Linked DNA regions of Homo sapiens. The protein of the gene in region 6 purifies or fractionates together with the protein of the main gene of each other region. This does not show direct contact. Each region holds a gene or a part of one and is shown on either strand. Other genes may lie near its edges.

The links.
Region 1: the proteins of MARK2 (region 6) and MTCL2 purify together in Homo sapiens (affinity purification with mass spectrometry; 2 studies listed by BioGRID and IntAct, with this or other methods). This does not show direct contact.
Region 2: the proteins of MARK2 (region 6) and CAPZA1 purify together in Homo sapiens (affinity purification with mass spectrometry; 2 studies listed by BioGRID and IntAct, with this or other methods). This does not show direct contact.
Region 3: the proteins of MARK2 (region 6) and CEP85L purify together in Homo sapiens (affinity purification with mass spectrometry; 2 studies listed by BioGRID and IntAct, with this or other methods). This does not show direct contact.
Region 4: the proteins of MARK2 (region 6) and DTNA purify together in Homo sapiens (affinity purification with mass spectrometry; 2 studies listed by BioGRID and IntAct, with this or other methods). This does not show direct contact.
Region 5: the proteins of MARK2 (region 6) and SNTB2 purify together in Homo sapiens (affinity purification with mass spectrometry; 2 studies listed by BioGRID and IntAct, with this or other methods). This does not show direct contact.
Region 7: the proteins of MARK2 (region 6) and MRPL22 purify together in Homo sapiens (affinity purification with mass spectrometry; one large-scale study listed by BioGRID and IntAct). This does not show direct contact.

Annotation. Positions count from the first base shown.
Region 1 is NC_000020.11:36,790,539-36,794,038, forward strand, and holds part of MTCL2 (microtubule cross-linking factor 2), read right to left. Parts: coding exon 2,711-3,500; intron 1-2,710. UniProt on the Homo sapiens protein: Microtubule-associated factor that enables integration of the centrosomal and Golgi-associated microtubules on the Golgi membrane, supporting directional migration. Preferentially acts on the perinuclear microtubules accumulated around the Golgi.
Region 2 is NC_000001.11:112,657,832-112,661,331, reverse strand, and holds part of CAPZA1 (F-actin-capping protein subunit alpha-1), read right to left. Parts: intron 2,311-3,500; coding exon 2,231-2,310; intron 1,632-2,230; coding exon 1,553-1,631; intron 127-1,552; coding exon of another isoform or gene 97-126; exon of another isoform or gene 80-96; intron 1-79. UniProt on the Homo sapiens protein: F-actin-capping proteins bind in a Ca(2+)-independent manner to the fast growing ends of actin filaments (barbed end) thereby blocking the exchange of subunits at these ends.
Region 3 is NC_000006.12:118,645,092-118,648,591, reverse strand, and holds part of CEP85L (centrosomal protein of 85 kDa-like), read left to right. Parts: intron 1-1,217; exon of another isoform or gene 1,218-1,685; intron 1,686-3,500. UniProt on the Homo sapiens protein: Plays an essential role in neuronal cell migration.
Region 4 is NC_000018.10:34,716,798-34,720,297, reverse strand, and holds part of DTNA (dystrobrevin alpha), read right to left. Parts: intron 1-3,500. UniProt on the Homo sapiens protein: May be involved in the formation and stability of synapses as well as being involved in the clustering of nicotinic acetylcholine receptors.
Region 5 is NC_000016.10:69,242,664-69,246,163, forward strand, and holds part of SNTB2 (beta-2-syntrophin), read left to right. Parts: intron 1-2,938; coding exon 2,939-3,152; intron 3,153-3,500. UniProt on the Homo sapiens protein: Adapter protein that binds to and probably organizes the subcellular localization of a variety of membrane proteins. May link various receptors to the actin cytoskeleton and the dystrophin glycoprotein complex.
Region 6 is NC_000011.10:63,842,110-63,845,609, forward strand, and holds part of MARK2 (serine/threonine-protein kinase MARK2), read left to right. Parts: intron 1-3,500. UniProt on the Homo sapiens protein: Serine/threonine-protein kinase. Involved in cell polarity and microtubule dynamics regulation. Phosphorylates CRTC2/TORC2, DCX, HDAC7, KIF13B, MAP2, MAP4 and RAB11FIP2. Phosphorylates the microtubule-associated protein MAPT/TAU.
Region 7 is NC_000005.10:154,951,073-154,954,572, reverse strand, and holds part of MRPL22 (large ribosomal subunit protein uL22m), read right to left. Parts: intron 1-3,500.

The DNA.
Region 1 (3,500 bases), on a different chromosome or scaffold from region 6:
ATTCTCCTGCCTCAGCCTCCCGAGTAGCTGGGACTATAGGCGCATGCTGCCACGCCTGGCTAATTTTTTGTATTTTTTAGTAGAGATGGGGTTTCACTGTGTTGCCCAGGCTGGTCTTAAATTCCTGAGCTCAGGCAATCCACCTGCCTCGGCCTCCCAAAGTGCTAGGATTACAGGCGTAAGCCACCATGCCTGGCCTCTTTTTTTTTTTTTTTAATGTAGAGATGAGCTCTCACCATGTTGCTCAGACTGGTCTTGAACTCCTAGCTCAAGTGATCTGCCCACCTCAGTCTCCCAAAGTGCTGGGATTAGAGACATGAGCCATTGCACCTGGCCAAAAAAGGAATAAATATTTAAAAGATGTTTTTAAATGTCAGCCAGCTGAGTGAGAGTATAGAAAAGTAACGCACTCGCCACACACTGCTGGAAGCTGTAGATATGGCACACTTTTGAAAAACAATTTGGCAGTATTTATCAAATAACTTTAAAACATTTATATTTTTTTTTTTGTGTGGAGATGGAGTCTCACTCTGTCACCCAGGCTGGAGTGCAGTGGTACCATCTCAGCTCACTGCAGCCTCCGCCTCCTGGGTTCACGCGATTCTCCTGCCTCAGCCTCCTGAGTAGCTAGGACTACAGGTGACCACCACTATGCCCGGCTAATTTTTGTATTTTTAGTACAGACAGGGTTTCACCATATTGGCCAGGCTGATCTCAAACTCCTGACCTTGTGATCCACCCGCCTCGGCCTCCCAAAGTGCTGGGATTACAGGCATGAGCCACCGCGCCCGGCCACATTTATATTCTATTATCCTTTAATCTCATTTCTGCAACTTATACCTAAGGAAATAGTCTGAAATGTAAAAAAATGATTTTGCACCAAGATGTTCACCACAGCATTATTTGCAGTAGGGACAAACTAGAAACCACCTAAACGTACAATAATAGAAAAGTAGAATGTTTGAGTCTATCACAGCCCATTCCACACACAGCCCTTCTCATGTCTCTGTGCCCCACAGCAGACCACATGGTACCACTCCCAGCCATAGACTGGACCAAGGGGTACACTCGCCTCTAGCTGCACCAATCAGAGTTTCCTTCTTTCAGAAATGTGGAATTGGGAGACAGGGATTTGTGTCAGTCTCTCCTAGGGGCTTGAACTGGAAGATGTTGTAAAGTCAGAGCTGGGACAGCCCACCCAGTCCTTGTGCAAATGCAACAGAGAGAGAAACAGAGAAAAAGGAGGAATATGATATCAGAGAGGGTGAAGCTTAAAGAGAGGAGAGGAAGACAGGGAGAAGCTGCTGAGGTTGTCAGGTTCCTACTCTTGGGTTTTATAAAACATGCCATCCTTCAAATACATTTCCTTCCCTTTCTGCAAAGTTAACTTATGCACATTCTAACACATTCAAATAATGCTCACTAACATTCAAATAAGGTTTACTAATTAACTTATAAGAAACTGATAGCAGGAGTGGGGTGTGAAAGATTCTCAGAGGAAATGTGAGCACTTAGGTGTGAAGTCTTGATGGGGTGGAGAAGTGGTATGCCCGCTAATGTTTAACAATTAGTTTTCCAGGAGTGATAGGAGGAGCCCCGATTTGTAGTGTTTACCAATTTTTATGCTGTAAATCCTCCCACTGTGGCCAATCTCAAGGTACCAAGGTGATGTTAAACACAGAGATGTGGCCAGGCGCGGTGGCTCACGCCTGTAATCCTAACACTTTGGGAGGCCAAGGTGGGCGGATCACTTGAGGTCGGGAGTTCGAGACCAGCCTGGCCAACATGGTGAAACCCCGTCTCTACTAAAAAATACAAAAATTAGCCGGGCATGGTGGCAGGTGCCTTAATCCCAGCTACTTGGGAGGCAGAGACAGAATTGTTTGAACCCAGGAGGCGGAGGTTACAGTGAGCCGAGATTGAGTCATTGCACTCAAGCCTGGGGGACAAGAACGAGACTTCTCTCAAAACAAAAACAAAAACAATAAAAAAAAAAAAACCCACAGAGATGCTGACAATTGGCTCCTGCAAGCCAAACAAGCTGGCTCTAGCACACCACTGGGTGGCAGGAGAGCAGTAAGGCCCCTTCCCTGGAGGGGATGCTGGCAGTCTCTGGTGGGTGGAGCAAAAGCTGCTAGTTAAGCCATGCTCACTAGTCTCTTGGAATTCAGACCATGTGACCATCAGGTCTGTGTTGTTCCAGGTCTGGGACCTTCCAACTCTATCCTAGACCAGCATAAGAACTTCCTGGAACACATGGCCATATCCCTGAATTTTTATTTTATATATATAGATATATAGATAGATAGATAGATAGATAGACAGACAGACAGACAGACAGACAGACAGACAGACAGACAGATAGATAATTTTTTTTTTTTGGTGAGACGGAGTCTTAGTCTGTCACCCAGGCTGGAGTGCAATAGCACAATTTCAGCTCACTGCAACTTCCGCCTACTGGGTTCAAGTGATTCTCCTACCTCAGCCTCCAGAGCAGCTGGGACAACAGGTGCATGCCACCACGCCTGGCCAATTTTTGTATTTTTAGTAGAGATGGGGTTTCACCATGTTGGCCAGACTGGTCTTGAACTCCTGATCTCAGGCGATCCACCCACCTCGGCCCATATCTCTGAACTTAAAAACCAAAAGAGCTTGGACCTTATATACTAACTCCACCTACTAAGAGAAAGGACAGATCCCACCCACCTACCTCATTGGGAAGGACCACGGCTCCATCTCCGTCCCGGAGGACACCATCCTTCCCCACCTGGGGGAGCATGGTGAGTCTGACCTCCTCACTGCTGCCCAACTTGGCTGCCTTCTTGTTCAGGATCCTGGCCACACCCTCTGGCTGATGGTAGCTGGCTGGGGAGAGGGGCTCTGGCTTCTTGGTGCCCTCCTCTCCTGCTGATGAGGTGGGGCTCGGTGCCCGGCCACACACATTACGGAAGAATTCCTGCACAATGCCGTACTTGGGAGGCTCGGGCTTGGCCCGCGTCTCAGACATGCCTAGTTTCCAGACAGACTCCGTGCTCCCTGAGTGCTCCACCACACTGAAGAGGCTGGAGAGTCCATCGTTGATGTTTCTCAATACAGGGCTGTCCCGCGTGGTGGTGGAGCGGGCCCAGGCCGAGCCGTTCTGCTTGCCCTGGTGCAGGTTCCACAGGCTGCGGTCCTTGCTGCTGTCCAGCTTGGACACAGACCGCCTCTGGAGCTTTGGTGAGCCATACTTGGGGGAGCAGCAGGGCCGCTCGATGCGCGAATGGACCTTGTCCAGGGAGGAGGAGATCTGCTTGCTGCGCACAGACACGAGCGAAGAGCTGCGGGGTGACCAGGCCTTGCCATGGAGGCTGCTGCGGGGTGGGTCGGTCTGCAGGCCCACGCTGACCGTGCGGATGGTCTGTGTGCCCACACTGGCCAGGCCCACCGTCTGGCTGGATGTGCTCTTCACTTTCCTCTCCAGTGAGCCGGAGCGCATGGCCTGGCGCACACAGTTGGTG
Region 2 (3,500 bases), on a different chromosome or scaffold from region 6:
TGCCATATTTATCTACCAACTCTTACATATCACTGAGGGCTCCTCCTAGAGCTGTGAACTCAACACCAGCCTGTCTCACCTGAGTTGGGCATGCTCCTATGGCCAGGAGCTACTTGTTGCAGGAAGCTATAGGTATATATAAAAAGAGCAGATTTACTTTTACAGAATTTATTACCTATGCACTTGATTAAATTAGAGCATTAAAAAAGACAACTCTTGGCTGGGCACAGTGGCTCACCTGAGGTCAGGAGTTCAAGACCAGCCTGGCCAACATAGTGAAATCCCACCTCTACTAAAAATACAAAAATTAGCTGGGCGTGGTGGTGTGTGCCTGTAATCCCAGCTACTTGGGAGGCTGAGGCAAGAGAATTGCTTGAACTCAGGAGGCAGAGGTTGCAGTGAGCCAAGATTGCACCACTGCACTCCAGGCTGGGCGACAGAGCGAGACTCCTCCTTCTCCTCCTTCTCAAAAAAAAAAAAAAAAAAAAAAAAAGACAACTCTTGGTAATTGTTGTTAAAGCACAGCTTCACATAATATAATACAGGTACGATTAGGTACTGATCTTCTCGGTTACCTGTACCTATTCTGACCTTACAGTTAGTGAGGCTTAAATATTAAATCACCCTGAGTTTAGAAAGTCAAACCTCTGCTAGGATATTAAACTTCAATCCAGACAGGCATCAAATGAGTTAACAGCTATCTTATTCAGCTGCCTGTCTACCCTGACATCAGCATTAAAAATCTACTTCTGGGCCAGGTGCAGTGGCTCACGCCTGTAATCCCAGCATTTTGGGAGGCCGAGGCGGGTGGATCACCTGAGGTCAGGAGATCGAGACCAGCCTAACCAACATGGAGAAACCCCGCCTGTACTAAAAATAGAAAATTAGCTAGGCGTGATGGCGCATGCCTGTAATCCCAGCTACTCGGGAGGCCGAGGCAGGAGAATCACCTGAACCCAGGAGCCAGAGATTGCGAAGAGCCGAGATCATGCCATTGCACCTCCAGCCTGGGCAATAAGAGCAAAACTCCATCTCAAAAATCAATCAATCAGTCAATCAATCAATCAATCAATCAATCTACTTCTGCTTGGCTATTTATATTCCAAAACACCTGCCATTCTCTCTAGTTATAATTTTTAGGAATTAACCCAGCCTGGGCTGGGAGGTGGAGGTTGCAGTTAGCTGAGATCACGTCACTGCACTCCAGTCTGGGTGATGGAGTGAAACTCTGTCCCAAAAAATAATAATTATTATTATTATTAATTTTAAATCTTTCCTAAAACTGCTGTTTGATAATTCCTAGTTATATCTTATGTTACCATTGAAGGAAAAATAACAATAACCATGTTGCCATACACTCTACATGCTATCCTTTATCAACTCAGAATAGCTCTCTCTGTTTACCACCCCAAGAAGGAGGCTTCTATTTCTATTCACTGCCATCAGTCTCCCTTTGCATCTACACATACTTGGTCCTTATTTAATACCAAAGCAACCTGCACATGTTTTAAAGATGTGAAGTTTTAAGTCTATAAACATGTTGGAATCTCACCTGAATCTTAAGCACGCCAACCACCTGGGCTGTAGGTGGTGTGATGGTGAACTTCCACTCTGATCTCCAACGACCATTCCTATTAAAACACACACACAACATTGCAGAATTAGCAATAAGCACAAGAAAGAGGTGATTTGCCACTGAGGTACAGAAGTTGGGAAAGAGGGGTGCAAAAAAAGAAAAAAAAAAAGAGAGAGAGAGAAACTGTCATTTCCAGTTTGGCAAACCCAAAGCTCTGTCTACTCAAATGTAAGTCTGGATCTAAGTGGCCTGACCATAAGCCTTTTCTAAGTTATTTTGTCTTTCATTTTTCCTTTTTTCCCTTGAAATGGAAAACCATGCCTATTCTGCTCATGGGAGGCTCTTCCAAAATCAGATGAATAGGCTGCTGAGTTACACAATTAACTCAAGTAGCAGTAACCCTAAGCCAAGTAAAACTCAGATTTTCAACAGGGCACTTTACTAATCACTTGTTCTCACTCAAAATAAGAGTAACTTTTAAAGGAAAATATAATTATAAAACCTTAGAACTGTAAGGAATCTAAATCCCTCATTTATAGATGGAAAACTGAAGTCTGTAAGTTAAATAATTATTCCAAGCTAGTTGGATTAAAAACCAAGTCTCAACTGCTGGTTTCTTTCAGATGTAAATAGAAGAGAATATCTACTTCTTACCAGAAGTTTTTAGGCTGAAACTGGTGGCTTTCAATACATGCAATAATAGTCTGTTGCCCATCGATAGTTTTAGCATAAACCTATTGTTGGGAAAAAAAAATAGTTAAAGACTCCAAACACTTTTAATTTAAACAACATGCATTGTACAAAAGCAGAGTGTTAAATCCTTGGGGGAGACAAAGAATCACATAAAATGAGCTTAGAACACAATAGTGCACATGGGATATGAAAACAAAGCAGAACATGTTAGGTTCTACCAGAGACAGTGATACAATGAAAACAGAGGGAAATACTGCTCTTGGTTTGGGGTACAAGGCGGGTGCCATTTAGGCTGGGTCATACAAGACAGATGAGATTCTGATAAGCAGAGACTGAAAATAAAGGCAAGACAGGAAACTAAGGACTTGTTCAGTGAACAAGACTGTCAGGTTTAAAGGGTGTGTGTGAAGTGGACTAATGAAAGACAAAACAGGATGGTAGATTTAGGTCATGTAATAGTAGATGTAAAGTAAGAAGTTTAAGATTTTATTCTATAGGCAATGGAGAGACAGCAAAACATGACTAGAACTAATATTGTGGGAGAATAATCAATACTGGTATTCAAGATAAAACGAAGAAAAGCTGAAGCTTGGTTAGGAGGCCACAGGATTAATCTAGGCAACAAGTCAGAGTTATATTAATGGGAATGGAAAGGAAGAGTTGCACACAGAATGTAGAAGTACAATCAAAGTCTAGCAGTATATTGCAAATGATGGGCAAAGGAAAGAAGGAACTCAAGAGTGACTAAAAAGATGGTGGTGTCATTAACAAACTGGAAATTACAGATGGAGATGTCTAGTTAGTAGTTAGAAACACTAACTCTTCTTTAGTGTGGGAGAGGTGAATGGAAATGCAATCACCAAGGGAAAGTAAGAAAAAAAAAATAGCGCTTTATAGTCCACAAAATATGTTCTTACATGTATTTTCTTTTTCCTCTAATAAATCTGATGAAATACAGTGTTATCTACAGATAAGAAGTTGAAGTTCACAAAGCTTCTTGCCTAAGGTCACTCAGGAAGTGGTAAAGGTAGAATCCAAACCCACTGTTTTTGTGACACCGAAGTCTGTGTTACTTTACCTGCATTAAATGAATTATGAACTTTGGGGGAATGCCTACATTTACAAAGGTAGGGGAAAAAAAGAACTTAGTATAGAGTAAGAATAATTAGGGGGCTGGGTGCAATGGCTCAAGCCTGTAACCCCAGCACTTTGAGAGGCTGTGGCAGGGGGA
Region 3 (3,500 bases), on a different chromosome or scaffold from region 6:
TTTTTTGTATTTTTAGTAGAGACGGGGTTTCACCGTGTTACCCAGGGTGGTCTCGATCTCCTGACCTCGTGATCCTCCTGCCTCGGCCTCCCAAAGTGCTGGGATTACAGGCGTGAGCCACCGCGCCCGGCTTATAGAACCACTTTCTAAAAATCAGAAGAAATTTTTTTTTAAAGAAATGGCAGTAAAAAATAGGAATAATAAGTGTAGTTTGAAAAATACTGAACTTTTAGCCTTCGCTTTAGGATTCAGTTTAATTTGGCTTTTCCCATTTTTCAGCTTTTTGGAGTAACTGTTATAAACCAAAAATAAAATGAGTATTTATTTATTTATTTTTTGAGACAGAGTTTCCCTCTGTTGCCCAGCCTGGAGTGCAGTGGTGCGATCTTGGATCACTGCAACTTCCGCCTCCCGGTTCCAAGCGGTTCTCGTGCCTCAGTCTCCCAAATGGCTGGGATTACCGGCATGTGCCACCACACCCAGCTAATTTTTGTATTTTTAGTAGAGACAAGGTCTCACCATGTTGGCCATGCTGGTCGCGAACTCCTGGCCTCAAGTGATCCACCGGCCTCAGCCTCCCAAAGTGCTGGGATTACAGGCATGAGTAACCGCGCCCAGCTAAAATGAGTGTTTTCTTAAGTTTCCTTACAAATATCAAATAAAAGCCTCTCTTTTTTGTATTGGCAAGTGTGGTTAGAAGGCTAATTTAAAATAGAACAATTGGTATCTTTTTATGCATTTGGTTGATTGCATTTGAGATTACCCTATTGTTCAGAATGTATACTGGTTTCAAGTTGGATGAAGGATAGACATATTTCCCGTAGGCTTTTGAAATCAAGCATGATAAAGTGATACTTTGAGTACTTCCTAATACCTAGTTGTGCTAAGTATGTTCCTTTTCGTAAATAATTTTTTTAAAATACTAACATAAGCCAGGCGCAGTGGCTCATGCCTATAATCCCAGCACTTTGGGAGGCCGAGGTGGGCGGATCACTTGAGGTCAGGAGTTACAAACCAGCCTGGCCAACGCGGTGAAACCCAGTCTCTACTAAAAATACAAAAATTAGCCGGGCGTGGTGGCGTGCGCCTGTAATCCCAGCTACTCAGGAGGCTGAAGGCAGGAGAATTGCCTGAACCCGGGAGGCTGAGGTTGCAGTGGGCTGAGATCATGTCGTTGCACTCCAGCCCGGGCAACAGAGTGAGGCTCTGTCTCTTTAAAAAACAAAAGCGAAAACATATATTCAACTCTTAAAACATTTTGAGGTAGAGTATTATACTTTTATAGTGTGCGAAAATAAAATGTTACAGGAAACACTTGAGCTGAAAAAATGTCATTTGTTCATTGCTTTGAGCTTTACATTTACCTCTTAATTGATGCTTGCCATAAGGTGTTTAGTGATGTCATAATGATAGTGGTAATAACTGGTATGGTTACAACTAATAATATTGTTTTCTGCTGTGGTTCTGAATTAGATGGACTTCTAGGAATACTGTGGTAACAATGAAACATAACTCTGGCCTAAACCCAACTGAACATGTTCTTTCATAATAGGTATTGGGGGGTAAGGGGTGAATCTTAACTTTAGTGATGACTTTGGTGAAATGAACTTGATTAATAATTGGAATTTGATCACTTCCTGGCTTGAATGAAGCTGGTAAATTAATCTGAGGCCAAGCAATAAATGGTGAGTTGATAACCTCTATTGTCATGTTGTAATATTTATGTGTGTGAACAGAAAGGGTTGAGAGAGTCATGATTTTTCAGACTGGATGAAATGTGTATTTTTATACTCTGAAAAGATGATGAAGACATAAAGTCTTCTGGATAGTATTTTCCTGAGTTATAGCCTAATTACATAAATTTTGCATTAAGAAAGTGAAGAACGTGATCATCAGACACTTTTTAAGCAATATCATTTTTTATTTTTTTTGAGACAGAGTCTCATTCTGTCACCCAGGCTGGAGTGCGATCTCGGCTCACAGCAACCTCCGTCTCCGGGGTTCAAGCGATTCTCCTACCTCAGCCTCCCGAGTATCTGGGATTAGAGGCGTAAACCACCATACCTGGCTAATGTTTTGTATTTTTGTAGAGTCGGGGTTTCACCATGTTGACCAGGTTGGTCTTGAACTCCTGACCTCAAGTGATCCGCCTGCCTTGGCCTCCGAGAGTGCTGGGATTACAGACATGAGCCACTGCACCCAGCCAATTTTTAAGCAATAACATGTTATTCATTATTATTATTACTATCAGGATTTTCATATTTTACACTGGCAAAGTAATATTCTAAGAAGAGCAATTTATTGTATAGGGTCATTTAAGGATGGGCATGATCAACATAAAAATAACATCAAATTACTTTTCTTTTCTTTTTTTTTAGACAGAATCTTGTTCTGTTGCCCAGGCTGGAGTGCAATGGCGCAATCTCGGCTCACTGCAACCTCCGCCTCATGGGTTCAAGTGATTCTTCTGCCTCAGCCTCCCGAGTAGCTGGGACTACGGGCGTGTGCCACCATGCCTGGCTAATTTTCGTATTTTTAGTAGAGACAGGATTTCACAGTATTGGCCAGGCTGGTGTTGAATTCCTGACCTCGTGATCTGCCAGCCTCGGCCTCCCAAAGTGCTGGGATTAAGGCGTGAGCCACCACGCCTGGCCCCAAATTACTTTTCATACCAATATTTTGATTTCTGTTTTTCTTTAATTAAAAAAAAAATGGTTACCTAGCATAGTGCTTGTTACCTTGGCATTAGAAATGTTTGTGAATTATTCTTTCAATAAATATGGTGTGCTAGACATTGTATAAGCCTCTGGGGATACATCATTGAACAAGAAAGATAAGGTTCTTGCTCTACGGAGGCTTGTATTTTACTTTTAAAAACATTTTTTAGGTTTTGTTTGTTTGTTTGTTTTGTTTTGTTTTTGAGACAGTGTCTCACTCTGTCAGTCAGGCTGGAGTGCGGTTGTGCAATCATAGGTCTCTGCAGCCTTGACCTGCCAGGATCAAGCAGTCCTCTCACTTCAGCCTCTCAGGCTCAGCTGGGAATACAGGCATGTGCACTGACTGCTGGCTAATTTTTGTATTTTCTGTAGAGATGAGGTCTCACTGTTACCCAGGCTGGTCTTGAACTTTTAGGCTCAAGTGATCTCCTGCCTGGGCCTTCCAAGTATTGGGATGACAGGCATGAACCACCATGCTGCCTGGTAGTGGCTTGCATTTTAGAGGGGAGGATCAGTAAGTAAACAGATAGTGAGATGATGCAGCTAGTGTTAAGTACTAAGAGGAAAAGAAGATTGGTGAGGTGGCAGAGGATGGGCAGAGCTCCTTGAGTAGCTGGTCAGGGAGGCCTCTGAGGAGGTAACATTGTTACCTGAATGATGAGAAGAAGCCAGACGTGAAGGGAGAAGTGTTCAGGTGGAGGGAACAAAAAATCTCCAAGGCGGAAATGAGTTCGAGAAGTTTGAAGAACTCCAGTGAGTCTGGAGCTTAGTGAGCAGGACTGT
Region 4 (3,500 bases), on a different chromosome or scaffold from region 6:
TACAATTCTTTTTGTACAGAGGATGACAATCAACCCACCCCTACCAGCCCACATTATAGGGAAAGGAGATAAGAACCAAACTTTGAACCTAACTTTGTTCTAGAGTCTGGTTGGGTTCTGCCTGGGTCCACCTGCTTGACTTTGACTTTGTGACCCTTCCACCCCCTCATGACTATGCCTTGGCCAGCCTCTGGCCTGATTCCCTTTTCTGGCTGCCAACCTCGCACTAGCTCCCTTAGGTTATAAAAATATTAGCGCATTTAATTCCTAGTAAGACGGCAATGAACAAATTGACATATTATTCAAATACCAAGCTTGGAAGGGAATTCCATTTGCTCTTATTAGTACCATTAGCAGCAGTCATTCTCTGTCAGAAGGTCAGAGCCATGTAGATGAGTATATAGAACATTTCAATGAGGCCCATTCTTTGAGGTAAAAACTTCAACTGTGCCAGTCAAACTGATTGACAGTATTTGGGTAGAAGAAGAGTTTCTCCAATTTATAAGGGCATGCTCCTAAACAAAGCTTTCTTTACACTTTACATAAGAAAAATCCAGAGCTGCCCTAAAAATCTTGTTACTATTTCTGAGCAGTGTCGGTGTAGAATGACATAAATACCGGAAAGTCTTCTAAATCTTATTACATAATGATAATTGCTAACATTTTTGCAGGTTTACTATATGTCAGGCACTTTGTGAGCACGTTACAAGTATCATCTCTGTACATATTATAAAATTAACATAGATTAAGAGTAGGCAGGATGGCGTAGTAGTTGAGCTGATTAAATAGAGCTCTCTCTGATTAACTGTATGCTGTTTGGGGGATTACTTAACCTCTCGGGCCTTAATTTCTTCATCTGTAAAATAAAGATGGTAAAAGTACCCTGCTCATAGGGTTGTTGTGAGGATTGATGGAGAGATAATAACTACTTATTTTTTTATTTTTTTATTTTTTGAGATGAAGTCTCACTCTGTCACCCAGGCTAGAATGCAGTGGTGCGATCTGGGGTCACTGCAACCTTCACCTCCCTGGTTCAAGTGATTCTCCTGCCTCAGCCTCCTGAGTAGCTGGGACTACAGTAGACCCACACCACCATGCCTGGCTAGTTTTTGTTTTGTTTTTGTATTTTTAGTAGAGACGGGGTTTCGCCATGTTGGTGCCAGACTGGTCTTGAACTCCTGACCTCAGGTGATCCACCCACCTTAGCCTCCCAAAGTACTGGGATTACAGACGTGAGCCACTGCATCCCACCACTACTTACATTTCTTCAGTGATTTCCATGTTCTATGACTGTTCTCCAAAAAAAAAGGGTTAATTGCCTTAAATAGGTTAAACAAAAAGTACTTAGAACAGTATCTGGCACTTAGAAAGTCTTCTATTTTCTTAAATCCGAGAACTCATGGAACTCTCACATGATGTGCTCCTCTCTGTCCTGCTGTATGTTCAGGTTTCCTAGTATCAAGCCACACATGGTCAGCACATTGCCCAAATGGCTGCTATTCTTTCCTCACTCACTCTGGCTTGTAGTTACTGCCAAAGTCCTCCTTACAGTCAGACTAATGCCCATACTCTTCAGTAATACCTTTCTCCTTTCATTTCTTTATGACCAAGACCATACTCCACCTCCTCCACCATTTTTCTGCATTTTCCACCCTTCTTTTTTTGACTGCAGTGATCATAAGGCTTTGGAAGAAATAAAACCTAACGTCTTATTAGAAAACAGTGGGGGCTTTGATGCTGGAATAACAGCTTCTACTGTCTTCCCACCTATAAATGAACCTGGATATACTGCCAAGAGAAAAAAGTCCATCAAAATGGGGTAAAGACTGGAGAAGAATAATGTACCCAAATCATAAATTCAACAGACGATTGCTTTTTTGACCTTTCTAAACGATGCCTAATTATATACTTTTAAAATTCTTGTATTTTTGGAAGAAATAAAAACACTATTTGTCAAAATCAAAGAATGTTAAGATTTTAACGAAAGAGGAAGTCTCATAAATATTAAGTTTCCACCTCAGTTACATTACATCCCCAAACAAAATTGTCATGTGTCATACATTTCAACTACATACATGATGTAGTTGCGCCTACTTCCAAGAGGATGATTTATGTAAGTTGGTCCTGTTTGAAAAACTTGCATATTGTAAGATACGCTCAGTTTCCTTGGCCACAAAAATCCTGCTCCAGCATTGTATGCAGTAATCGACAATTTTCAAGGGGGCTTAAAAGATAAATCAGTTGTTCTCTACCTGACTTATTGTAAAGAGAAGCAACAGACAAAACACCTCTCAAATCTACTCTTTTTAAATTCTACTTTCATCCCCTTAGCTCATAACCTCCCTCATACTTGTTCTGGATTGTAACATTAACTTCTGGACTCATTTCTGTCTACACACTAGTCTATTTTCTGTGCTGCTGCCATTATTACATTTCCAGACATTTCTGATTCTCATCTCTCCCTGGTTTTCCCATACTGTTCTGTTTCTCAAGATCCTCCTTTCCCCAGCTTCCTATTGAACACTGGCCATTTCTTTAAGGTTTATCCCAGTGCTTCCTTCTCCACACAGCATTTTCTCTCCCCTCCTCTGTAATATCTGCTCTGCACCATTTACTCCTTAGGATACTCCAAGGATTTCCTGAATCAAGGAACTCTGCACTACTACTATCTTTTCAATGTCAGTGTCCAACACAAATATATTCAATATAAGGTTTTTTAAAAAAAATAAATGAGAAAATGAATGAGCATTAAAATTCTTAAGCAAACAAAACTACAGACTACTTGAGACCAACACTTCTCTGGAAAATCTTGGACTTGCAGTCACTAGAATCAAAGGATTTCATTGATCTGTATTTCTGTAGATAAAAGGGAAATTGCACAAAGAATACTCACCTTCTTGTCCTATCTATATCATCCGAATTTAGCAGAGGTGCTTGAAATTAACCTCCGATATTAAATAAAAGACCCTATTTGTTGTGCTTAATTCTAGAGTGTCACTGTCTATTAAGATAGCACTAGACACACGTGGCTATTTCAATTACTTAGCATTAAATAAGATTTGAAATCTGTTTCATCAGTCGCACTAGCTACCTTTCAAGTGTTTAATAGCCACATGTGGCTAGTAGTTACTATATTGGACTAAGAAGATATAGAGCATTTCCAGCATCACAGAATTTTGAACAGATTGCTCTGGAGCTCTGCCTCTCCACCACACCTAAATGTAGGTGTGGCCCAGTTATTCAAGCCCAGTTATCCTCTGCCCATCCTTATATGAGCAGAAATTTCTTTAGAATAAATTTCAAAAACTAATAATTGGAATGTATACCCTATTTAAAATATTTTGTTATTTTCTCTCACAGTCAAGGCATTCCAGATTTTACCATTTGGTATTGAATTTCAGTGAAATTATAAAAATCTACCCTTCCCACTTGATATGAGACTTCTTATTTGCAAATCAGCGGTGAAGACAAACACATATACATGGGTAAAGGGATTCACA
Region 5 (3,500 bases), on a different chromosome or scaffold from region 6:
AGAAGAGAAGGGATCACAGTAATGCTTTTGGGGTGGGAGGAAGCCCACCTTCACGTTCAGTAAAAGGGATACGTGAGGCCGGGCATAGTGGCTCAAGCCTGTTATCCCAGCACTTTGGGAGGCCAAGGCGGGTGGATCACGAGGTCTGGAGATCGAGACCATCCTGGCTAGCACGGTGAAACCCCGTCTCTACTAAAAATACAAAAAATTAGCCGGGCGTGGTGGCGGGCGCCTGTAGTCCCAGTTACTGGGGAGGCTAAGGCAGGAGAATGGCGTGAACCCAGGAGGCAGAGTTTGCAGTGAGCTGAGATTGTGCCACTGCACTCCAGCCTGGGCGACAGAGTGAGACTGCATCTTAAAAAAAAAAAAAAAAAAAAAGGGATACATGAATGGAAGAAAGAAAATTAGCTTCAGCATCTGAACACTCAAAACAGTTTGTAAACATCAGTGTTTAATTAAATTATTTTGAGGATTATCTTCAACTATCAGGAAAAATGAAATGATTCTGAAATATGTTGTGGATTCTGAGTTGAACTGAAAGCTCCATGTGGGGGTGTAAAGGCTCTGCTTATCCAGCCACGTGTCCAGGTTAAGGCCTTAACATAGGACTGAAACAGAAGACTGTTAACTTTTTGCCATTCCCAAACATAGAAACAGATGTCCATCCACAGCTCTTCAGCCATTCTGGATGGCTAATTAGATGGGGGTATGGACTGCATTGCCATCAACTCAGATAAAATTCATTGCTCTTTTAATAAGGCAATACATAAATTGTATGTGTATGTCTGTTTTTGTTTTAGGATGTGTGTAGTAATCAGTTCAGTGATGCTACTGTGTGATTGAATGAACTGAGTAGATCGTTAAGGGTTCTTTTCTAACCACTATATTATTCAAGAATTCATTTAGAATGTCTTTAATTTCCTCCAGTTGGTAGCCCAATAGTGTACTGCCTTAAATGTTCAAAAAGCATGCCTCTGCCATTTGCAGTAACTGGAAACCTTAGGAATTTCTGCCAAAGTCCTTCAAAGCATAAAGCTGAAGTATGTATTGAAATGCTTGAGTCAGCTGCTCAAGGGTTATACTGACTGCACTCCTGCTGATTTTTCTAGGGTAAAAAAATCTCCTTGGTGACCTGAGGCAGCTACCCAGAAGCACGTGTATTATAACTATGCACAAAAAGCACAGAGATATACTACATCTAAATTCTAGCATTGGAATTGTTATATTTTTTATTATTATACTTAATTTCAGTAAATCTTTTTTAATAACGTATAAGAAAATAACTTTAACTCTTCTACTGATTACCATTAAAATTTTTTAACTCTTCTCTAACTTTCTAATTTAGGGAAGGAAAAAGAAAGGTACCTACTGTATTTATTGAATGTTTAGTATGTGCCTGAAATTTTTATTTGCTTAGTGTTACTCCCATTTTGTAGATGAGGACCTCAGAACAGTTAAGTGCGGTCACATAGCTTTGAATAGCAAGCACAGTTAGGATTTGAACAAGGTCTTCTTGATTCCAAAGGCATCTCTATGACCACATCATGCTGTAGAATGAGCTATCAACTATTAGGCCTATAAAAGACTATCAACCTTATTAAATAAAAAAACTAAGGTGCAGCACGGTAAGCATAATGTACCACCATATGTATGATCAGATATACACGCATGTGTATGTGTTTATTTTCATACATGCTTAGCATACCAGGCATCTCTTTGAATGGTTGCCTCTAGGAATGGAGACAGGGTAGCTAGAAATCTGGACTTTTATTATAAAACCTTTTATACCTCTTGAGTTTTGTTTTATGTGCATGTATTACCTATTCACAGGAGAAACTGTGTGTACCACTGTGCCCAGCCAGTTTGTCTAGTTTTTGAAACAAGAACACCATGCCTCGAGTGACAGTAATTGTAGTCATGACTGAAGTAAAACAAGTATTTTATGAGTTTTAAATTTGAACTTAAAAAAGCTTCCTATCTACTAAAAGCTTGATTTTCATTTGGGGCCACATTAATGGAAATAGAGTATTTTGAACAAGCAAGGGGGATCAGTTGAGTTGGCTTTGTGCTTATTAGATCATACCTTATCTTGAATATACTTTATTTTTGCACTTGATTTTAAGAACTGTAATGGCCTGTTTACATAGCTGTCTCCCCTGCAAGGCTGGGCATTCCTTGAGGGATAGAATCCATGGCTCATTTGCCCTTGTGTCTTTACTGGCTAGCCTAATTCCCAACACTTGGTAGGTAGCTAATAAAAGTTGATTGAGTTGAATGGAAATAGAAATACTTAGCTTAGTATGGGGAGGAGAGAGAAGAGAAAAATCTGTCTTCAGATAATTACAGAGTTCTCATGTAGAAGAGAGATTAAGTTTGTTCTATATGGCTTGAGAAGACAGGGAACCAGTGGGTAGAAGTATGGAGAAGTTTCTAAAGGTTGAATCATCTAAAGCCTAGATGGGTCTGTCTTAGAATCTATCTCCAGGGGATTCATGGCTCTTTAACTTACTTTTTTCCCCCATTTTTTGTTTGTTTGTTTGTTTGTTTGTTTTTGAGGCAGAGTCTTGCTCTGTCGCCCAGGCTGGAGTGCAGTGGCACAATCTCACTGCAGCCACCGCCTCCCGGGTTCAAGCAATTCTCCTGCCTCAGCTTCCTGAGTAGTTGGGACTACAGGCGCATGCCACCACGCTCACCTAATTTTTTGTATTTTTGGTAGAGATGGGGTTTCACTACGTTGACCAGGCTGGCCTTGAACTCCTGACCTCAAGTGATCCACCCGCCTCGGCCTCCCAAAGTGCTGGGATTACAGGAGTGAGCCACCGCGCCCAGCTCTTTCCTCCACTTTGTTATAGATATAGCATGTATGTGAATACTTTAGTTATCATTTATTATAGGAAGCAAAATTACTAACCTTCTTCTTTGATTTTTTTGTTCATAGTCAAGTTCATCCGAGAAGTAACACCATATATCAAGAAGCCATCATTAGTATCAGATCTGCCGTGGGAAGGTGCAGCCCCCCAGTCACCAAGCTTTAGTGGCAGTGAGGACTCTGGTTCGCCAAAACACCAGAACAGCACCAAGGACAGGAAGATCATCCCTCTCAAAATGTGCTTTGCTGCTAGAAACCTAAGCATGCCGGATCTGGAAAACAGGTGAGGTGTACCTAACAAGAACATCATACCTACAGCTTTACAAACTTAAGGACATGTTGCAGTATTATATGACTCTGTTAACTCAGTTATACAGAGGAAAACATCTGTCTGAGGTGAGAGATGCATTTTTGGGGTTCCACATTTTAAGTTATTCTACATATATACATGTATATGTGTAGAAAAAATTTTGAACAGACACACAAGAAACTGTTAATGGCTTTACCTCTAGGGTGTCAAATAAGACTAAAGGGGTGAAAGAAAGAGGGGGCATCTTTTCTTCCTTTTATGTCTTTCTGTAATGTTGTTATTACTTTTTTCACTATGAATATGTATTACTTTATAATTGAA
Region 6 (3,500 bases):
CTCAGGGTAGCCAGTCACTGTATCGATTTAATATTAAGTCTCATTCCAGTAAAAGCAGGGACTTTGGAAAACCTTGGATGCACCTATTCCAGACAGATTCCTGTATTCTTTTTTTTTTTTTTTTTTGAGATAGAGTCTCGTTCTGTCGCCAGGCTGGAGTGCAGTGGCACAATCTTGGCTCACTGCAATCTCCGCCTCCTGGGTTCAAGCGATTCCCCTGCCTCAGCCTCCTGAGTAGCTGGGACTACAGGCACACACCGCCACGCCCGGCTAATTTTTTGGATTTTAGTAGAGACAGCGTTTCACCATGTTGTCCAGGATGGTCTCAGTCTCCTGTCCTCGTGATCCGGCCTCCCAAAGTGCTGGGATTACAGGTGTGAGCCACTGCGCCGGGCCTGATTCCTGTATTCTTTAAAACGGGAAAAAAGACAAGCAGCAGCTCCTCAGGTCACAAGGCCAGGTATATCAAACACTGGCCTCCGAGAATAGATCATGCCACCAAGTGAAAGAAACCTCTTCTTGGTCCTGTTGTGATTTTAGATAAAGTAGTCATGGAAGCTTGGTCATTACTATAGTCTTAATGTTATTTTTTTTAAAAAGGGGATTTAGTTGGGCTGATTTCCTCCCCTAAAGGTCCTCTGTCACCTTATTTAAATTTAAAACTGGTTTTACCAGAAAATAGGTAAACAAACACCACTGGTTGTCTCCAGTCTCTTTTCTTGCTCTTCCTCTCCCTCTTCTTTAAAAATGTGGCTGATGAGAACCTGTTTCCAGGAGCCCTTTAATCACTCTGAAACACACAGACACTGAAAATGTTGAAGCATAAAAATAAACCTTGCGTTACAGGGAGATTGCCTGTGTGCTGTCCACTTCGCTTATAACAGTGAAAGTAGGAGATTAAAAAAAAAAAAAAGTTAAGCCCTGTCTTTAAGATGGTTTTTGTGACACCTGATTCCAGATGTGCTTTTTCACAGCCATAGACTTCCTGCTTTTGCAGAAGGAGGGTTCTAATCTGGGGCTCGTAGCTTGGGGGATTCTTAGTTTGTGAGCTGAGCTTTTTGTTCACTTCTTTTCCAAATGACTCTGCTGGCCTGAAGCTTGGCAGTTGTGAAAGCAATCAGCAAGATGACTGTTTGTCTTCCAGCCAGCAGCAGCAGTCACAGGCAAGCCTGGAGAAAGGTCCAGCTTCCAGAGTTCACCTGCTAGAGTTTTCCATAACACCTGGGGGAGAGGCTACTCCATCTGGGACCTGCCCCACCTCTGGGCCTCAGAAACTATGAGAGAGGGATTGAGAGAAAACTTGCCCCACTTCTGCTGCAGTGGGAAGGGAGGGGGCTGCTGTCAGGCTTCTAGGCAGTGAGCGGCATTGTTTATTCTCTCAGTTCTAGGAAGGGGAGTTTAGAAGTACTGGTGAAGAAAACAAAGTTACAAGATCCTATAAGGAACAGCTGAACTACTCCAAACACTCTCACTGGACCCCCATTGTTGATTCTGGATAAAAATATATATATATATAAAACTCTTTTTTTTTTTGACACAGAGTCTTGCTCTGTCGCCCAGGCTGGAGTGTAGCGATGCGATCTCGGCTCACTGCAACCTCCGCCTCCCGGGTCAAGCGATTCTCCTGCCTCAGCCTCCTGGGAGTAGCTGGGACTACAGGCGCCCACCACCATGCTGGCTAATTTTTGTATTTTTAGTAGAGACGGGGTTTTGCCATATTGGCCAAGCTGGTCTCGATCTCCTGACCTCAGGTGATCTGCTGGATAAATATTTTTTTTTTGCTTTTGGTGTAACTTAGGTAGATTGGATCGGCTAGCTAGCATCTCAGTCCACACTCTGAGCTGTGCAGCAGTGTGCCCTGGTGCTAATTCTCACTCTGTCCTTTGATTCTGGCCAGGGGGTCCTTGGTGGTGCTGCCTTCTGGTCAGGAATGTGGGTGAATGTCAGACCAAATAGTGTCACTTTCGGCTTGGCCCTAGAGATCAGGAAGGAAGTGTTGTTAGAGCAAGGGCTTTGGGAGTCCTTGGAGTTCGTAACCTTTGAATCTGAAAAGTAACTGTACCTAGTAAATTAGAATAATTTCTCTCTGGTCAGGCACCATGGCTCATGCCTGTAGTCCTAGCACTTTGGGAAGCCAAGGCAGGAGGATTGCTTGAGGCCAGGAGTTCAAGACCAGCCTGATCAATAAAGTGAGACTCCATCTCTACAAAAAAATTTTTTTAAATTTAGCTGGGCATGGTGGCACATGCCTGTGGTTGCAGCTACACAGAAGGCTGAGGCAGGAGGATGGCTTGAGCTGGGGAGGTCGAGACTGCATTGAGCTGTGTTTGTGCCACTGCACTTCAGCCTGGGTGACAGAGCAAGACACTATCTCAGAAAAAAAAAATTACTTTTCTCCAATTTATGGACTTCGGAAAGTAGCTAAACAGATGGATATAAGACAGTTGTTGAAACTCGGCCTGCTGCAGATTAAAATAAAGTTTGCACAAGGATAACTTAATCTTTCAGACCAACCAAAGTTTGGGCTGGAGATTTTTCTCAGCATAAATGTCCTAAGCAGAGTTGGTGCCTATGAGGTAGGAAAAGATTGAGACTTTGCTTGCCTAAGAGGTTTGCAGGGTTCGAGCTTTTGGGAGTCAGAACTTCTCAGACTAGATTGTTTCCCCTTTGGACAGAACAACCCAATTCTCAGTGGGCATTTGATCAGGACTAACCCAGGCCTTCATGAACTCTTTCCCATTGAGCACTTAGCCACCTGGCTGGCATTTCTCTTCTCCCAGGAGCTTCCATGAGGTTCCTACTTATGTATTATGTCGACTTGAATGAATATTTTATGTCTAGAGTGCAGCCAAGCCTCAGACTTTGTGGCCCATTATCGACAAATGGGGTAGGGGGTGGGCGCCACCTTTGGCCCCGTGATAGCTTCTCTGCTAAATGGACTCCCCCCAGCAGCACTTTGAAGCCCATTAATGGATTGGAATGAAGTAACCTCAGCAGATGGAAAGGGTGAGGAGGGTGGTCATCTTCCTTCCCTGAGACTGCCTGATGAGGCTTTCCTACAGTAACCAGGACAAGCCCCTATTCCCTCTGCTTGGTTAAGCTGTGGACTGGAGCTACTAGGCCTCTGCTTTGAGAGGAAGTATAGAAAGGATTTGATTCTCTTTTAGCCATGGTGGGGCCGCCAGTTTCCCCACTTTCCCATCAAAGCAAAAATTGAGAAGGATGTGGAAAGGGTGGGTGGAGTTTAAAGCTGGCCCTTCCTCCTTCAGTGGAAGTTCAGCAAAATGACAAACCAGATAGGTGGCTAAATTTCCTTCTCTTGATGGGAGATTCCAGTATTTGTACGTTTTGTGCTTGTAGCTTGGATTCTCCAGGCCTCCTCCCAGCTTTCATCAAACATGAGTGAGTCACTGAAGTGTTGTCTATGCATTTTCTCCCTTCTGTCTCTGCAAAGGGAAGAGTAAGCCTTTACAAACCTGTGGGGGAGGAAGTCACCCTCT
Region 7 (3,500 bases), on a different chromosome or scaffold from region 6:
GGCACTTTCTAAAGATAAACGAGACAAAGTCTCAGTACGTATCAAGCAAATAAAGTAACAAAGGTGGAGGTCAGAAGACCTAGTTATATATCTCTGCCATTAACTGACCTATACAGCAAATTAGATAAAGTGAGGATAGGATACGTAAAATAGTTATTCAAATGAAATAAATGTATGTCTAAATTATAAAATGTCTAAATCAATAACTTTTAAATAAATCAATTTATTTTTAAATGCATATAATAATTCAAATGAGGAAAAAGTGTTACCTAATAAAATTTCTGGCCAGGCGCTGTGGCTCATGCCTGTAATCCCAGCACTTTGGGAGGCCGAGGCAGGAAGATTGCTTGAGCCCCGGAGTTTGAGACCAGCCTGGGCAACATGACAAAAACTCGTCTCTACTAAAAATACAAAAATTAGCTGGGAGTGGTGGCACATACCTGTGGTCCCAGCTACTCAGGAGGCTGAGGTGGGAAGATCTCTTAAGCCCAGGAGGTCAAGGCTATAGTGAGCCATGACTGCACAACTGTGCTCTAGCCTGGGCAACAGAGTGAGACCCTGTCTCAAAAAAAAAAAAAAAAGTTTTAGGCCAGGTGCGGTGGCTCACATCTGTAATCCCAACACTTTGGGAGGCCAAGGTGGGTGGAACACTTGATGCCAGGAGTTGGAGACCAGCCCGGACCACACAGAGAAACCCCATCTCTACTAAAAATACAAAATTAGCCGGGCGTGGTGGCACACACCTGTAATCCCAGCTACTTGGGAGGCTGAGGCACAAGAATAGCTTGAGTCCAGGAGGTGGAGGCTGCAGTGAGCCGAGATCATGCTACTGCACTCCAGCCTGGGCAACAGAGCTAGACCCTGTCTCAAAAAAAAAAAAAAAAAAAAAAAGTTCTTACTAGAGCTTTATGAGATTCAGATTCACATTAAGGTATTATTATCAGTATGCTGACTAATCCATAAATTAAAAATACGTCTCATATAGAAACGGTTGTTGGGGGAGTGAAGAAAAAGAGGAAAAATAAGAAATGGTAGCTCAAAGAGTTTTGACCCAGTCTCATTACACTTTTCATTTATTTAACATAGCTTTTTTTCAAAGATACTGCAAAAGGAAACTGAAGCCCAAATTAACAAGGTGTGACTATCATAAAGAAAGCCATTTAATTTCTCTCTGGCTCATTTTCTTTTTTTTTTTTTTTTTTTTTTTTTTCTCCTGAGACGGAGTCTCGCTCTGTCACCCAGGCTGAAGTAGTGCAGTGGTGCGATCTCAGCTCACTGCAACCTCTGCCTCCCAGGTTCAAGTGATTCTCCTGCCTCAGCCTCCCAGTAGCTGGGACTACAGGTGTGCACCACCACACCCGGCTAATTTTTGTATTTTTAGTAGAAATGTGACTTCACCATATTGGCCAGCTGGGCTTGAACTCCTGACCTTGTGATATGCCCACCTCAGCCTCCCAAAGTGCTGGGATTACAGGCATGAACCACCACACCCAGCCTTCACTGTCTTCATATGAAGCCCCATATAAGATAAAATCTACATAAGAATCTATATTCTTTGGAAATTGGTGCTAGCTAAACTACGAAGTTAGTCTTAAAAATATGAGGAGTAGCCTAGAACAACTCTACATTGGTAACATTCATTTTTATTTACTGCTACGGGTTTTGCTCACTATCCCATCCACTGTTATTTATTGACTATATATTCTAATGCAGAAGATCAGAATTAGGTAGAATGGTAGATATTATCTGGCCCTCTTTTCAGCTAGAGATAAAACTAATTTTAATAATGGCTGCAGCTGGCAGATTGGAAATTCTAAGGGACATTGTATATTATAGCGCAGTATTATGAACTATATGGCCAGTGAATAAATTATTTCTGGTAAGTTAGGTATTTATGAAGGGTATCGGTATTCCCAGTCATAACAGGTACAACTGATGTACCAATATTAAATTACTAAATACTATTTAAAGTCAGAAAATGTTCATATTTCCCAGATGTCATAATTTGTCCCCCAAAGGATTACTGAAACAAAATCTGTGCAAAATAGAGAAATTAAGGTTTTCCAAAGTACCTATATCAAATCAAATTAAATGTCTTCCCACAGGCACTTGTATAAGAAGGATAAATGATACAAAAAAGTTAATCAAAATAGTTTCATTAAATATAACACACAACAAATTACTGTATTGATAGTGTTCATCATTTGCTAGAGTTAAGCAGATGACATACTACTAACTATTTGAATTTTGCCACTTGGGATATATCCTAAAGTACATTTTTTTAGTATCTAAAGATACTAAACAAAACAAACACATAACAAAATTGTGCTGTTATAGATTCTGGACTTGACAAATACTGTTGTAATTTATTTCCAATTAATACCTGATTTCAGGCCGGGCACGATGGCTCACGCCTGTAATCCCAGCACTTTGGGAGGCCGAGGCAGGCGGATCATGAGGTCAGGAGATCGAGACCATCCTGGCTAACACGATGAAACCCCGTCTCTACTAAAAATACAAAAAATTAGCCGGGATGGTGGCAGGCGCCTGTAGTCCCAGCTAGTCGGGAGGCTGAGACAGGAGAATGGCGTGAACCCGGGAGGCAGAGTTTGCAGTAAGCCAAGATTGCACCACTGCACTCCAGCCTGGGCGACAGAGGGAGACTCCATCTCAAAAAAAAAAAAAAAAAATACGTGATTTCAAAGAGCTCAGGTAAGAAGCAAAAAAAGTTCATTAGTTACAGAAAAATTTTTATTTATGATATTTGTGCAATTGTGTAACGTTTCATTTAGTCAATTTTGGTTAATTACAAAATGGAGACCAGCCTGGCCAACATGGTGAAACCCCATCTCTACTAAAAATACAAAAATTAGCTGGTCATCGTGGCGGGCACCTGTAATCCCAGCTACTCCGGAGGCTCAGGCAGAAGAATCCCTTGAACCCGGGAGGCGAAGGCTGCAGTGAGTCAAGATCGTGCCATTGCACTCCAGCTGGGTGACAGAGCAAGACTCTGTCTCAAAAATAATAATAATAATAAAATAAAATAAACAAAATGGAGTCAATACTTAATAGCCTATACTGACAAATCTTTCAAGTTGTGATGTCATGACAAAATATGAAAGTTGAAAAGTTATTTGTTTATTCTGTGCAGATAACGATAAGATAAATCTCCAGTAGGAACCCAATGATTAAGTTCAAACTTTAGGTTCAAATTGCAAAACAAACAAACAAACAAACAAACAAAAAACAGTGTGTCTATATTCAAATATATAACACTGGAAAATCATATACATAATTTAAACATTGGCCAATAGTTTAAGTCATTCTTGCCAACTCCACATGCTCCATCATTAAGAGCTCATCAGCAAGCCTCTCAGAGTCAAAAATCAGTATGTCTTAAACTATTAGCTTAGTTTTAGAGTTAAGGTCCCTATCCAGGAGGTTAAGTAAAGACAAATAAGTAAAGAATAACAATCTTTTTCAACTATTGAAGAGATAAA